2 separate regions of the Homo sapiens genome follow, and region 2 is linked to region 1. Evidence: fine-mapped expression QTL. Tissue or cell type: prefrontal cortex. Region 1 holds a variant in brackets; the other region holds the start of a gene. All regions are shown on one strand. Distances are between the middles of the regions.

Region 1 (8,100 bases):
AGGCCCGGTTGGCTTTCAGAGGCGTATCCATGGGAGTAGGTGTCATGTATCAAATAGGAGATTCAAAGTCAGCTGTTACCACGGCTACAGAAATGCCAGTCTTTTCCTAAGAGTGCGAATGGACACACACATGTGCATACGTGCACACATGCACCCTCAGGCTCTCACGGAGCCCTGGGTGCCTACAGCAGGACGTCCAGGACGGGAACACCACAGTGCACTACGCCCTCCTCAGCGCCTCCTGGGCTGTGCTCTGCTACTACGCCGAAGACCTGCGCCTGAAGCTGCCCTTGCAGGTACGTGGGAGGCATGGGGACAGGGTGGGCCTGGAGGTCCCGGTCCCCACACACTGCGTTCAGCTGCCAGTGCCGACAGCCTCAGGAGGGCTCCCTGCTCAGAGGCCTCAGGGGCTCCTCCTACCCACCCCGACACCAGGCCCCAAGAAACCTCACTGGGCAAACAGGGCAGGTGGTGGCATCCCCCACAGTGGGCTCCCGGGAGGTGGGGTCGGGTGAACAGTGCGTGTGCACTGAGCTGGCCCCTCCAGGCCCAGACCCCCGCCAGGCCACCTGCTGAGGGCCCTGCCTATGAACATGGGGTGGAGAAGGCTGCCTCCAGGTGACCTCAGGAAGATGGGCCTGGACGTGGGTCCGCCTCCCACCGCACTGGCTGGCCTGACCCTCACTGCGTGCGGGTGGGAGACACGCTACTTACCAGTTCCCACCCCTTTTCCACTTGAGGGTCTCTGGGCTACAAATTGACAAGCTGAGCAGCCTCAGAGCCTGAGGCCCTGAGAGGGGAAGGGGCTCACCTGGGCCCTCACAGGGTCTACCACGCTCCTTCCCTCTGCTGGAGCCCCTTCGCCCATTGCCCAATTTGCAAACTTGCACAACCTCCACTCCCACCTGGGGCATTTGCCCTCCTCCCGGGAGTGGGAGGAGCCACTGACGTTTCCTTCCAGGAGTTACCCAACCAGGCCTCCAACTGGTCGGCCGGCCTGCTGGCATGGCTGGGCATCCCCAACGTCCTGCTGGAGGTTGTGCCAGACGTACCCCCCGAGTACTACTCCTGCCGGTTCAGAGTGAACAAGCTGCCACGGTAAGGCAGGGGCCCTGCCAGTCGGAGGAAAGAACAGGAGTGAGTGGGAGTCGGTGAATGAGTGAGCGGAACTTGGTGCTTCCCCAGGACTCTCCTCACCTGGAGTTTTCGGCAGGGAATCTGAGGCCAGGTGCGCACGCTTATCGCGTGTCTGCATTTCCAAATGCCGCTGCGTCAGCCGGGCTGGGGCGGTTGTGCTGCAGGACAGATAACCCCCCCAAGGCCCAGTGGCTGGACACGCGAGGTCTAGTTCCTGCTCAGGCACACGTGTGGTGGGGCGGCGCGGTACCTGCTCACCACGGTCTCTCAGGGCCCGGGCGATGGAGGCTCTGTCTCGTCACAGCGTCCCCAACTGTGGAGGTAGAATACAGGGACACGTTTGGCCCATGCTGGCTCCCTCCTGGAAACGACACGTGTGTCGTCCACACACATTACTACTGGACAAAGCCAGTTGCACTATGGCACCAGGCCTACAGACTAGGGGAGTCCAGAAGTGGCAGGGACCACTGTCGGGGAACCAGTGCTGAAGGCGGCCTTTCTGCCACACGGGATGCCTCCTTTTGGGGCTGGTGGGAAATTCAGCCTCACTCCGTGTTGCCCCACCTATGGCTTCCCAAGATTCTGGTTTCCCAGGGAGGGCCCCTACCCAGTCACTGTCCGCACTGCCCACGAGCACCCTCGGCCCCATGACGGAGCTTCAGGGCGGCACACGGGATGGGGCTCCCTGGCCAGCCTGGCCCTCTCTACACCGCCCTGCCCTGTGCCCAACCACAGTTTGCTTCCCCCCACCCTGTGTGTGGTGAGGGGTTCTGGGTATCTGGGGGCCTGCTGTGGCCTCCTGTTCCTGGGGATGTGAAAAGGCATAATCGGGAGCTGCTGACCTGCCGGGGAGCCAGCTGCTTCTCCTGGGGCGAGGGCTGTGTCCGCAGGCCTGTGCTTCTGCGTGCGCGCCAGCACCCGGGCCCCAAACCTTCTGCACCGTTCACATGCCCGCAGCTTCCTCCAAACCTTCTGCACCGTTCACATGCCCACAGCTTCCTCCAAACCTTCTGCACTGTTCACATGCCCACAGCTTCCTCGGGAGTGACAACCAGGACACCTTCTTCACAAGCACCAAGAGGCACCAAATTGTGAGTGGGGGTTCCCTGCCGCGGGCCCCAAACCCTGACCTGGCTCTGAGGATCCTGCCAGCCCCCAGCCTCCATGGATGCAGAAAGGCCTGCTTGAGACCAGAGGGCCGAGGCCTGGAGCCCGGAGGCTTTGGAAACTTTAGAGGCTGACCTCACCTCGCTACACAGGGCAGGCCATGACCTGGGATTGGGAAGGGGTGGGGAAGGGCCCAGTTCCCCTCCGGGACCCCAGGGCTCAAAATAGATATTGGATCTATGGACATGTGGGACAGCCGAGACTAGCCCCAGGCAGGGTGGGTCCTGCCGGCTGGGAGCAGACCTGCCCTGCAGCGTCGGAGGAAGGGTGGCCCCAGGCGGGGCAGGCCCAAGGCACCCGGCAGGAGGCCTGTTCCTGAGGCCTACCCAAGAGAGGCCCTGCTGACCACCACAGGGCACACAGTCACGTGGCTGCCCAGGTAGGGGGCAGGGCACACCCTGGACACAGCTGCCAGGCTGCAGTGTTCACCGTCACCCAGGGTGCAGGTCCAGAGTGGGCTGCGCACGGCCAGGCAGGGGCCCAGCTTCAGGTGCAGACTCGACTCCCACATGCCGTGTGGCTCTGGTCAAGGACTCTGAGCCTGCACAGTGGGAGAATGAGCACTACCCTGGCACAGGGGCGTCCTGCATGTGCATGTGCGGTGGTGACACAAAGTCCCAAGCCTTTCCATCAGATCGCTATTGTCACCAGAAGGCTGAGGGAGGCCGTCCATGGCCTTGGCCTAAAGACAGGCTAGCTAGGACTTCCCTGTTCTGCTATCACGTGACAAGTGACCTGCGCCATCCTCCACATCCCCTGCAGCTGTTTGAGATCCTGGCCAAGACCCCGTATGGCCACGAGAAGAAAAACCTGCTTGGGATCCACCAGCTGCTGGCAGAGGGTGTCCTCAGTGCCGCCTTCCCCCTGCATGACGTGAGCTCGGGGGCTGGGGGCTCCAGCCTGGGTATGGGAGATGAGTCCCCTTGGGTCCTGTTGGCCCCCAGGGAGGCGGGTGTGGGGCAGGCATGGTCAGCCGGCGTGGCCACCCAGGAGTCAGAACACTAAATGCACACACATGCGGCGATGTGATCAGGCCATCCCGTGGCCTGTCCGGGGCCTCAGGTCCGGCTCTGCGGGGACTGCAGCCCACACTGCGGTGCCCAACACGGGAACAGGCCGGTCCCTGGGCTCTAGATGCTATGGCTCTGTCTCTCTGGGTAGCGTCTCTTGCTGGGAAAGACAGTGAGGTCTCCTATCCCCCTCCAGAAGCTGGGTAAACTGAGGCAATGCCAAAGCGGGCACTGACCAGGGCAGCTGCCGCTGCACCTGTTCCTATCAGCGTTACCATCATCCCTGAGAAAACAGCCACTGTGGGGAGCAGAAGGCCATTTATTCCCCCACCCGCCCAAGCCTTCCCCCTTGGCCGAGCAGGGGAGGGGCCTTGCAGGCAGCCAGGGCATCTGGGGCCTGGTCAGGCCTGAGCCCACTGCTGCATGGCCAGGGGTCCAGTCCTGCCCCAACGCCGTCATGAGGGTTAAATGAAAAAGTGGGTGTGGAAATGCCAGGTGTCCCACCTTGCTGGGGTGGCTCCTCCCGCCAGCCAGGGCCCAGAATGCACAGCACAGGACACGAGCCTGGGGACTCTCCAACCCAGAGAAGGTGCTGGACCCTGGACCACCGCCACTGGCTTCTCTCAGGGTGGCCTCTCCAGGCCCTTCCCCGCCCTGAACCCTCGAAGTCCAGGAGTCAGAGGGGCCTCACCACATATGTCCCCTCCTCAGAGAGGTCCTCCCGGACCACCCTGTACCCACCCCTCCACATTACTCTATTTTTTCTTCATGGAGCAATCCCAGACTCCCAGGCCTGTCTGCCCATGTCCCACACTGAAGCCCCTGCACCTACAACAGTGCCCAGTGGGGTCAGCTGGGGGAGCCTCCCACCCACAGGCCGCTCGCCCCCAGGGCCCCTTCAAGACGCCCCCAGAGGGCCCGCAGGCTCCACGCCTCAACCAGCGCCAAGTCCTTTTCCAGCACTGGGCGCGCTGGGGCAAGTGGAACAAGTACCAGCCCCTGGACCACGTGCGCAGGTACTTCGGGGAGAAGGTGGCCCTCTACTTCGCCTGGCTCGGTGAGTCCCCCCCGCTGCCCCCCAGACCACCTGGGCCCCCCCAGCTTGGTGTCAGGTTGTAACAATTTGCCAGTCCGTACCCCTGGAGGGCAGCGTGCGTGGGGGCCTGGACGGTGGGCGCAGCTCTTGGCTCGACCGGGCTGCCCTCCTGGCTCCCCTCAAGCCCACTCACTCTAACTGGGCGCCATGACGATGCCGGGCCCTGGCCTCCTAATGCTCCAGTAACAGTGCTGAGAGCCGCTTCTGCTGGTGGGGGTCTCTCCTGACTCCCTCCCCGAATGTCACTGGCCCATGAGGCCCTGGGGCAACCCCAGGAACTTCCATCCTAGGGAGGTCGCCCCTGCCTGGGTCCAGGCCAAGCCTCTCATCTCCTCCAAGCAGGCCATCTGCCCCAGGCAACCCCAGAGCTGTTCCTCCTGGGTCCTGGCTGCCCTCACCCCACTCAGCTCTTGGCACCCTCCCTTCCCCATCCTGGGTCAGACCCAACCCCTTCATTCTGTGCCCCAGAACTTCCAAAGCCCTTTCTCATCCGCACACACAGCCCCACCGTGGACCCAGACAATAGAGCCAGCCAGGGCAGCGGGCGGGGCCGGCAGGCATGGAAGGGCAGCCGGGGCACAGCATCGGGGCAGAGGGACAGCTCCT[G/A]TGTGCCAGGACTCACCCGGCCATCTCAGGACCTGGAGCAGCAACCCTGGGACAGCACGGCCAGGCTGGGGGCTTCTGGGGGCAAGCAGGGCCAGGGCTGGATCTGGGCTCCAGGCAGACTTGCGTTTCACAGCAGTCACTTTGGCCAGCAGAGAGTCAGGCAGGAGACAGGACACCAGGCCTGGGACTGGACTAGCCCTATGGGAGGCAGTGGGGGTACATGCTGAGGGCCTGGGGTAACTGAGGGATTGCGGCTGTGGTCAGATGAGGCAGGGGCCAGGGTGGGGGTTGGGTGGTGGGGAGGGAGGTACCCGGAATGACTCGTGGTTTCCCTGGGGCTGGAACACGGGTGGGCCCACAGCTCTGTGGTGGGCAGGATGTAGAGGGACTTCTCTGTCCGTCCCGGGCAGGTTGGTTGGAGTGAGCTGGCTGAGGAGAAGGCATCCAGAGGTGGAGAGCCTGGTGGGCTGGAGCCCCAGCAGCACTGGTGTTGGGGTCAATGTGGTAGGGGTGTCCAGAGTCTAGGGCAGAGGCCCAGGAGGGTGGGCCGTGCCAGAGCTGCCAGGGAGAGCTGTGTACCTCTTGGCCTCCTCACATAGGGCCCCAGCCCCCAAGCTGGGCTGAGGGTGGTCCCTAGGGGACAAGCATGGCTGTGCAGACCCCTACCTGGGGCCCCCAAGCCTGGGTTCCTGATGGTGGACCCCTGCCATCCTCTCTACAGGGTTTTACACAGGCTGGCTCCTGCCAGCGGCAGTGGTGGGCACACTGGTGTTCCTGGTGGGCTGCTTCCTGGTGTTCTCAGACATACCCACGTGAGTGTTCCCTCTCCGCAGCTCTGGGGCCTGGTGCTGGGCCTCCAGATGGGTGTGGGGCGGGGGGACCCCTAGGTGCTAGGTCCTGTGCAGACAGCTGGTGCTTGAGGTGATTGAGGTGTGAGGTGAGCACATGCCTGTCTTCAGGAGTGTCACAGAGGGCCTTGTGGACATGGCTGAAAGGCTGGCAGGTGGACAGGAGTGCTCCCAGGCTGACAGGTGGACAGGAGTGCTCCCAGGCTGACAGGTGGACAGGAGTGCTCCCAAACTGACAGGTGGTCAGGAGCACTCCCAGACTGACAGGCAGACGGGGCGCTCCCAGGCTGACAGGTAGTCAGGAGTGCTCCCAGGCTGGCACCGGTGGATAGGAGTGCTCCCAGGCTGACAGGTGGTCAGGAGTGCTCCCAGGCTGATAGGTGGACAGGAGTGCTCCCAGGCTGACAGGTAGCTAGGACTGCTCTCAGGCTGAAACAGGTAGACAGGTGTGCTCTCAGGCTGACACAGGTGGATAAGAGTGCTCCAAGGCTGACACAGGTGGACAGGAGTGCTCCCAGTCTGACAGGTGGACAGGAGTGCTCCAAGGCTGACACAGGTGGACAGGAGTGCTCCCAGTCTGACAGGTGGACAGGAGTGCTCCCAGGCTGACACAGGTGGACAGGAGTGCTCCCAGCCTGACACAGGTGGGCAGGAGTGCTCCCAGCCTGACACAGGTGGACAGGAGTGCTCCAAGGCTGACACAGGTGGACAGGAGTGTTCCCAGTCTGACAAGTGGACAGGAGTGCTCCCAGGCTGACAGGTGGACAGGAGTGCTCCCAGTCTGACAGGTGGACAGGAGTGCTCCCAGTCTGACAGGTGGACAGGAGTGCTCCCAGGCTGACAGGTGGGCAGGAGTGCTCCCAGCCTGACACAGGTGGGCAGGAGTGCTACCAGGCTGACACAGGTGGACAGGAGTGCTCCCAGGCTGACATAGGTGGACAGGAGTGCTCCCAGCCTGACAGGTGGACAGGAGTGCTCCCAGGCTGACACAGGTGGACAGGAGTGCTCCCAGCCTGACACAGGTGGGCAGGAGTGCTCCCAGCCTGACACAGGTGGACAGGAGTGCTCCAAGGCTGACAGGTGGACAGGAGTGCTCCCAGGTTGACACAAGTGGACAGGAGTGCTCCCAGTCTGACAGGTGGACAGGAGTGCTCCCAGGCTGACAGCTGGGCAGGAATGCTCCCAGCCTGACACAGGTGGGCAGGAGTGCTCCCAGGCTGACACAGGTGGACAGGAGTGCTCCCAGGCTGACAGGTGGACAGGAGTGCTCCCAGGCTGACACAGGTAGACAGGAGTGCTCCCAGTCTGACAGGTGGACAGGAGTGCTCCCAGGCTGACAGGTGGACAGGAGTGCTCCCAGGCTGACACAGGTGGTCAGGAGTGCTCCCAGTCTGACAGGTGGACAGGAGTGCTCCCAGGCTGACACAGGTGGACAGGAGTGCTCCCAGCCTGACACAGGTGGGCAGGAGTGCTCCCAGCCTGACACAGGTGGACAGGAGTGCTCCAAGGCTGACACAGGTGGACAGGAGTGTTCCCAGTCTGACAAGTGGACAGGAGTGCTCCCAGGCTGACAGGTGGACAGGAGTGCTCCCAGTCTGACAGGTGGACAGGAGTGCTCCCAGGCTGACAGGTGGACAGGAGTGCTCCCAGGCTGACAGGTGGGCAGGAGTGCTCCCAGCCAGACACAGGTGGGCAGGAGTGCTACCAGGCTGACACAGGTGGACAGGAGTGCTCCCAGGCTGACATAGGTGGACAGGAGTGCTCCCAGCCTGACAGGTGGACAGGAGTGCTCCCAGGCTGACACAGGTGGACAGGAGTGCTCCCAGCCTGACACAGGTGGGCAGGAGTGCTCCCAGCCTGACACAGGTGGACAGGAGTGCTCCAAGGCTGACAGGTGGACAGGAGTGCTCCCAGGTTGACACAAGTGGACAGGAGTGCTCCCAGTCTGACAGGTGGACAGGAGTGCTCCCAGGCTGACAGGTGGGCAGGAATGCTCCCAGCCTGACACAGGTGGGCAGGAGTGCTCCCAGGCTGACACAGGTGGACAGGAGTGCTCCCAGGCTGACAGGTGGACAGGAGTGCTCCCAGGCTGACACAGGTAGACAGGAGTGCTCCCAGTCTGACAGGTGGACAGGAGTGCTCCCAGGCTGACAGGTGGACAGGAGTGCTCCCAGGCTGACACAGGTGGTCAGGAGTGCTCCCAGTCTGACAGGTGGACAGGAGTGCTCCCAGGCTG
Region 2 (8,100 bases), 110 kb after region 1:
TCTTTAGAGTTGGAGGCAAAGATCAAGGAAATCTACTAAGGCTGAAGTAGATACTCTGCAGGGGAGGAAACATGATTAGGGGAAGGATGTTGGCACTTCTTTCTTACAAGCCTTTCTAGGATTATCTGACTCTACAAATGACATGAAGCTGTAACCTTGATTTGAAATAAGATTAATATGAATGCTAATAAAAAGTAGTAAGGGAGAGTATGTAGTCAATGTATTCTTACCAAATTAACAACAAGTATCAACAAGATGACTAACACAACCACATGATGTCCAGACACGTCTCAGAACAAATGTCTAGCTCATCTTCAACGGTATTCGAGGAACTTCAGTGTGCTTGGTAAAACAATAGCCTACTAGGGATTTCACTTCTAAAATGTCTCTGACTTTAGAAATACCAAAAAATAACATGTAACCAAGTTTTAAAATATTATACACATGAAAAAAGGTTCTTTTCATTATTTTCTTGGTTTCCAGATGTTGAACGTTGTGGTGCTTTTACAATTGAAGAGAAAAAGCATTCTGACACATTATACTGGTTGGGGTTCTCTGCTTTTCTACTTGGTCAAAAACCTTTACACGCATTTTGGACTTTGTGTCATCATAACTTGGCAATTGGGAAAGCCGCATGATATGCTTCTTTCAGAACTTGGTTACTTCTTACCAAAAGAGGGAAAAGCTTTCGTATCACCATTTGCCTATGGGATGGATGCACAATGAACGGGCCATACCAAATAAAAATATCACTTTGTACTCCAAAAAGCATGTTCTCTGCTTAAGCCCTTTCTGTAAGTTTCAGCTGGGACGCACTAATGGAGAATCCATATGACCCACGAAGGATCGTAAGATATCCCAGTGGACCCGGCACAATCATCTCAAATTCTGTTCAGGTCAGAGTATCTTAGATAAAACTCACTGAAGGGCATCAAGTCCTTCAGTACACAGTCTGAGCCAAGCCCTCTACCATTTGCCATGGCAAGAGTATACCAAATTCTAAACCTGTTGCTCACGTATGCCACCAACTATAAATGTCAGCCTCCTCTTTCCTAGTCTTCCTGTCCACTCAGCACCACCTGGAAAAACTCTTACTCGTCTTTTAAACCGCAGTTCAAGGACCACATTCTGTAGGAAGACTTTCCAACAGGTAACCACTGCCTATTTCCTATGTCCACACCTTACACATATTTCTATCATTGCACTTATCACACCATAATGTAATTACTCTTCTACAAATAAGTCTCTCACACTAGACCACAAGCTGCCTGAGGAAAAGAAAAGTCTATATCCTCTTTTTTTGTTGGCTTTTTGAGACACAGTCTCACTCTGTCGCCCAGGCTAGAGTGCAGTGCTACAATCTCGGCTCACTGCAACCTCCGCCTCCTGGGTTCAAGCGATTCTCATGCCTCAGCCTCTTGAGCAGCTGGGATTACAGGCGCGCGCCACCATGCCAGGCTAATTTTTGTATTTTTAGTAGAGACAGGGTTTCACCATGTTGGTCAGGCTGGTCTCGAACTCCTGACCTCAAGTGTCCACCCGCCTCGACCTCCCAAAGTGCTGGGATTACAAGCGTGAGCCACTGCACCTGGTCGAAAAGACTATATCCTCTCAACCTTTGTATCTGCAGAACCCTTAACCCTACACAGCAATTTCCAGCAAATATTTTTTTGAATTGAAATGAAGAAGTGAGGTCATGAGGCTGAAGTCAGACAACTGGAAGGCCAAAACAACAAAACCTGGAAAAATACGTATTTACTCAAGAAGAAATTCTCCCACCAGGCCACTGAGAAGTTAGCTTTGCCCACTGGAGAGGACACTGTAACAGGGATTCAAGTAAGCCTAGTGGCGCTGAGGGACGTGATATAGGTCAACTATATCTTTGAGGTGCTCTCCTTACACTCAATGCACTTTTACCCGAATGACGTTAATTTGACTCCTGATAAGATGAGCTAAGTCCCTTCAACAGTGCTTGGCACCAAGCAAAACTAATAGCAGTAACAGGAAAGTTTAATCCTCATGATGAATTATTTAATGGGGTTTCAAACGCTGTCCCTGAGACTTGAGGCAGTAGGCTCCAGCTCCATTTTCCCCAAGTCTAAAACTTGATAGGTTGATGTTTCAGACTCAGAGATTCGGTAATCCAAATGATGGAAATAATTCTTACCCAAACACCTTTTCAACTATTTTTAAATACTGTTGCCAAGCATCCTAATATCATGTGTACTTAATGAATTTAGCCTAGGGATACTTTTACATGTCAAAAAATCAAAATATAAACCTAAGCACTACGTTTCATCCAGTGTTTCAGCATCCCAGATTTGCTTCCCTAAATGAACATTAAGCTTATTATGCAATGTGCCGCTACCAGGAGCCTTAGACAAAACCCTAATTGTGACTTAACCTATCTTAATAGGGTTTTAAGGAAGTTAGCTGCTAAGAAAGTGACTATCCTTAAGCAGACACCAAATAAATGTGAAGTCATTGATTGAGGGCTTAGGGTATAGGTAGCTATGAATCTGAGGACATAAAACGCAAAACTGAGGGGCAAATCGTCATGTTCCTTAAGATTACGACTCATCCACATTCCTTCAGCCGTTTAATTTCACCATAATAGGCACTGTTTAATAAGCAAAGCCCAAGTCGACTTCCTTCGATTTTACATGGCGTCCAAACACCATGTCAAGTCTGACCCTCTCATTTTTTAAGTCGAATGGAGAGGATATGTAGCAGCTAGCCTTGAGCACCTAACCACTTTTCAAAGGAGCTACGCACAAAAATACCCTAGCAACATGCCACGGTGTCAGAAAGGCTCAGGTTCCCAACACCATGCGGGTCAGCCATTAGGAACTCAGGAAGTGTTTCCTCTAAGCGGGGGAAACCTAGGAAGGCTTCCTGAACGAGGGGTATTTGCGCCAAGCCTTGACGTGAGTCTCGAACAGTTGCAGTGCCTCCAGGCCACGCGGGAGGGAGGAAAGGACACCCCGGGCCGGGGCACAACCCGCGGGCCGGAGCCGCCCGCGCCCATCCCGCTCAGGCCGCAGCCAGGCACGGCACCCTCCCGTCCCCGAGCCACGTCGCTGCTCGTGGGCTCGCGGAGCACTCCCCAGGTCTCACCTCGGGCCCCACACCAGAAGGAGAAAGCTAGGGGCCGCGCCAGCTCCGCCCTCCCCCGCGGGGCGGCGGGCCCCAGCCCGGGCACAGGAAGGCCACGTCCCCGGGGAGGGACGCCCGACTCGATGGTCTGCGCAGGGCCCGTCGGCCCCACGTGACGTGCGCGCAGCCAATCCCAGAGAGGCCCCCCGATCATCGAGACGGCGGCGGTGGTGGGCTAGACGAGTTTCGCGCGGCCGCTCGCCGTCCCCCGCCCAGTCGTACTCGGCGCCCCAGCTCGGTGCTGCCGCCATCTTCTTGGAGGACAGGAGGAGAGGCGAAGGCTCCCCCTCCCCGTGATCGCTCCGCACTCCCGCCACCACCTGCCCTCCCGCGACCGCCTCTCTCCTCCTCAGTGGGCACTTGTCTCCTTCTAACAAACGGCCTTCCCCCCACTCCAGTTACCCACCGCAAGGCGAAGATTCTCATTACCTGTTCCACTCTTATAAGCATAAGAAAACCGAGCTCATAAGGTAGGAACTGTGGCGAAACAGGGACAAGCCGCCATCTTGGTAAAGGAGAAGAGGCTACGCTTGACCTCCCCCCCCACCCCCAGCCTCTATATGGCCAACTGCCGTGGGAGGAGCACGGCGCTTGCGCAGAGGCGGACAACGCGGACGACTCTGGGCTTGCGCACTCGGAAGCCGGCCGCATGGGGGAGGGGAAGAAGGCCAGGTCGCACTGAGCCAGGAAGCAGTTGGCAAAGGGGCGGGGTGACGCGGTGACGCAATCCGCCTGCGCGCTGGGCGGGGCGGGGCGGGCTGGGGCGGGCTGTGAGCGGACCGCGAGCGCTGGGCGGGTCCGCGGCGCGGTCGGTCGGCGCCTGTTCTCGGGCTGTTTGGCGGGTGAGTGTCTCGCCGGTGTACCCCGCACAAGTTGTGGGCCGGCCCTCCCGAGGAGCTGCGGGGGACGCGCCGCTCGTCCCATACTCTCGGGCGGTGGTCGGCTGGCTCTGGGGTGCCGGCGGGGCGGTGTGGGGGAGGGGCGGCCGAGCCCAGGCTCTTCGGCACTTATCGTGGGCTCCCCCGTCCCGGGCGGTCCTAGTGCCGGCGACAGTGGCTCCGACACGGGCAGGCCCGGGCGCGGGAGTGGGGATTCCGGTGACCCCTTGTTGACCCTGCGGGAATTCCTCTGCACTGTCGTCGGTGCTGGGCCTCGGGGCGTCGAGTGCGGTCGAGGTCGGGAGGTTTGGTGCTTGGAGGGAGGATACAGGTTTAGGCCCGACAAACACTTAGAGCTTGTGTGGCCATCTTGTCTTTCTAACGGTGCCATTTCCTCCCTGAGGCGTGGAGGACTGGCCAGCCCCCAAACCTCCAAGCCCATCGGCTGGATGCCGTGGATAAGCGAGGGGAGAGCGACTAGGCCCTGTCTGCGGGTACCTTCGGCGAGGAGAGGCGACGAAGGTCTGCACCAGCGAGGCACGGACAGGCAGCAGGGGGTAGGGTATAGGGTTGGAGGCCGCCGAGTTGGCCCGGGGATGAGGAGCAAACCTGTGGCTTCCGTGGTCTCAGTGGAGTCCCAACTGTGACCTGGCCTACTGGCCCAGACAAACCTGGCTTGCTTTTTTACCTTTTCGGTCTAATTCTTGTCAGTGCCACCAGACCTTGTCCTCTCTCCACGGAAACACACGAACCAACTACACTGAACTTCTTGTAGTTCAAACTTCTGCACCTTTGGCCATTGCCCAAACTCTTAAATCTGGCTACTTCCCACCTTAACTGCCTTCTCCTTACCTAGTCTGTGCTTGTGGGATTCCGCCCAAATTAGATTTCCTCCAGACAGGCTTAGGTGTTTACCTGATGTTCCAGATGGTATTTGTCCAGTGGACTATTGGTGCTGTGAGGGCAGGGCACATGTTGTCACCCATACTCATTGCCTCGGTTGGTGTCTAGCACCTAGTAGGTTCTCAAATACTTTTTGAATCACAGTGCCTGCCGATATATTTAATGTTTCAAAATAGTTCTGCCGTCATAAAGAAAAACATCATGGTGTAGGGGTCATGAAAGCTGATTCTTGATACTTCTGATTTGAGCCTCATTGTTTTCAGTGATTTTTGATAGCTCCCATTAATGGGTTCTTTGCACCACCCAGCATCCTAACTCATGATGTGTACTGTTATGTATAATCTTGGCATTGATCTCATTAGCTATAAAGGTTGTCCTGATTTTTTTTCCTCAACTTCCACCTTGATTTCTCTCACCAGTGCCACAGCCAGGAATAAAGAACAAGAGCGTTTTAATTAGATCAGATTTACATTCTGACTGGCTCTTAAACTAGCAAGGTGACCTAGGGAAAGGGGCCAGGGTTTCCCTCTATCATTCATAAATGTAATTCAGGGCCCCTTTTTATCCCCAATACCAGCATACAGAAACTGCTGTAAAAGAAGAAGTTGTGGGTATTTTTTTTTTTTTTTTTGTCTGGAGGAATGGGGACACCAAAACTCATTTGGCAGCAGAGGTGAGGTAAGGCCATTTGTATTGTCTGTTCTGTTAGTAGTCATACATGCCACTTATCCCTGCCCCAGTCCCTGTTAGGAGTGTTATGTGGGTATACTGAACGTGGACCTTCCCCGAATCCAAAGAATCCAGATGCTTTGAATAAGATCATGGACCTTCCGGGTTCTACATCGCCAGATGTTGTTCATCTTCTATCTTTTGTTTTGCGAAAATTGGTTTTTTATGTGTATTGGGGTTATTCTGTGGAAGAAATAAGCTGTGGGTCAAGATTAAAGAACTTTAAACAACTTCTGGCATGTGGAATAAACACGATCTGAAGGAACAAAATTTTCATTTGACTACATTTTTGGTCCAATTTGCACCCAGTGTTTAAGTTAATCACAGTGCTTGGCAGTTTGTGTTGCTGGATCAAGGCTTTCTCACTGAAAACCATGTGCTTCAGAGGTTCATAATTCCTCTTTCACCTTCCATTTCACATTAGTTAATAAATTATGAGAGAAAACATTGTGGATCCAAGTTATGTTTCAGAAAAAAAAAAACAGGAAAAAAAAAAGATGGCAGGAGAAACTTGGTAAAGTCAAAGCAAAGTTGAAATGTCAGTTTAAGACAAATAGTTTCTCCATTTTCCCATATGTGTGCACAGGGTTCAGTGAGGCTGAGGGGTTCTGTGGAGGTGCGGGAGAGGTGCTCTATGGTATTTCTATGTTGCACTGTGTGGGTTTGAAATCAGATACATGTAATAGGTGATAAGGTAAGTGCCTGCTCTTTTCTATCCTCAGCATTGGCATTTAATCTTTCCATGTGAACTTAAAGCTCATTTTATCCAATCCTTTAAGAAAAAAGCCACACCGTTAGGGATTCCAGTTAGAAATGGACTAAATAACATACTCATTTGGGGAAAATAAAAATGATTTGATTTATGTAGGACCTGTTTTCTAGTTTGGTCCCTACTTGTTTGGATTTTTAAAAATTCTGTTGTAAATGATGTGCCCCCATTTCTATTCCTTGATATTTGTTGCTGGTACTTGACTTACTTGAGATCTTATATTTAGCTACCTTACTAAATTATCGTATTCTAGAATTTTTTTAACCAGAGTATTTGTATTTTCTTTTTTTTTTTTTTTTTGAGACAAAGTCTTGCTCTGTTGCCAGGCTGGAGTGCAGTGGTGCGATCTCAGCTCACTGCACCCTCCACCTCCCGGGTTCAAGTGATTCTGCCTCAGCCTCCTGGGTAGCTGGGATTACAGGCAGGCGCCACCACACCTGGCTAATTTTTGTATTTTTGGTAGAGACGGGGTTTCACCATGTTGGCCAGGATGGTCTCAATCTTTTGACCTCGTGATATGCCCGTCTTGGCCTCCCAAAATGCTGGGATTACAGGCATGAGCTACCGCACCCAGCCGAGTATTTGTATTTTCTGTGTATTCAGTCCAATCAGCAAAAAAGTGTTTTCTTTTGATTTTCTTGTTTCATTATATTCAGTAAACTCACCAAGGTAGTATTAAATAATCATGGTGAAATTGCAATATCTGGATCTTACTTGGATCTTGATTCACATGAAAAAAATGAGAGAATAGAGAATATGAATACTGATTGGATATTTGATTGCATTAAAGAACTAGCTATGTGTAATGGTTTGTCATTTTTAGGAGCCCTTATTTTTAGATATGTGTAGTGGAATATAAATGAAATGTTACATCTCGTATTTGCTTCATAATCATCCAGGCAGTGGCATTGATGATTGTGGAAATAGATGAAACATTATTGACCTTCAGTTGCTAATTGTTGAAGCTGGATAATGGATAGCACATGGGGGTTTTGTTTGCTTTTTGTATAGGTCTTCATGTAAAAGTTTTCATGTAAGTGCTTAAAAATAATTATGGAAGGGCATTCCTGCCGAATTATCGGTTGTAATTTAAATAGATTTAATTTTCTATTGTTTAGAAAACAGTATTTGCCTTTGGTTTTCAGAAATATCCTGAATTAGATTTAAGCAGTTTTCCTTTTTTTCTTTTTTTGAGACAGTCTCACTCTGTCACCCAGGCTGGAGTGCAGCAGCACCATCTCGGCTCACTACAGCCTTCACCTCCTGGGCTCAAGGGATCCTCCCACCTCAGTCTCCCACTTAGCTGGGATTACGGGTGCCCGCCACCACACCCAGCTAATTTTTTTGTATTTTTTGTAGAGACAGTGTTTCACCATGTTGTCCAGACTGGTCTTGAACTCCTGAGCTCAAGCGCTCCTCCTGCCTCAGCTTCCCAAAGTGCTGGTATTACAGGCGTGAGCCACCACACTCTGCCAGCAGTTTTCTTACTGTTTTCATTATGATTGGTTGCTGAATTTCATATGCCTCATCAGCATCTATTAATGCATGATTTTTTTTCCCCTATACTGTGTTGTTGGATTAATATTGGTAGATGCTTTTGATACATTCCTGGAATCTAATTGCTAGCAAATATTGTATTCAGGATTTTTGCATTTATATTTGTGA

The links. PIP is the estimated chance that this variant, and not a neighbour inherited with it, causes the effect.
Region 2: SEPTIN2 starts here. The variant in region 1 is fine-mapped to the expression of SEPTIN2 in prefrontal cortex (GTEx, PIP 0.98).

Annotation. Positions count from the first base shown.
Region 1 is chr2:241,199,128-241,207,227 of GRCh38, forward strand. It overlaps ANO7 (anoctamin 7), which reads left to right. Exons shown (of 25, transcript NM_001370694.2): 5 at 189-296; 6 at 962-1,098; 7 at 2,171-2,228; 8 at 3,067-3,177; 9 at 4,206-4,371; 10 at 5,738-5,828. Among named protein-coding and RNA genes, the nearest start is that of ANO7, 15 kb to the left of the region's middle. The variant G/A (reference allele first, on the strand shown) is at 5,017.
Region 2 is chr2:241,311,985-241,320,084 of GRCh38, forward strand. It overlaps SEPTIN2 (septin 2), which reads left to right and starts at 3,941. Exons shown (of 13, transcript NM_004404.5): 1 at 3,941-3,998. It overlaps HDLBP (high density lipoprotein binding protein), which reads right to left and starts at 3,688. Exons shown (of 28, transcript NM_005336.6): 1 at 3,586-3,688. RefSeq lists enhancers at 2,664-2,713, 3,594-3,643, 3,664-3,763, 3,689-4,413, 4,404-4,463 and 1 more and silencers at 2,944-3,323, 3,864-4,213.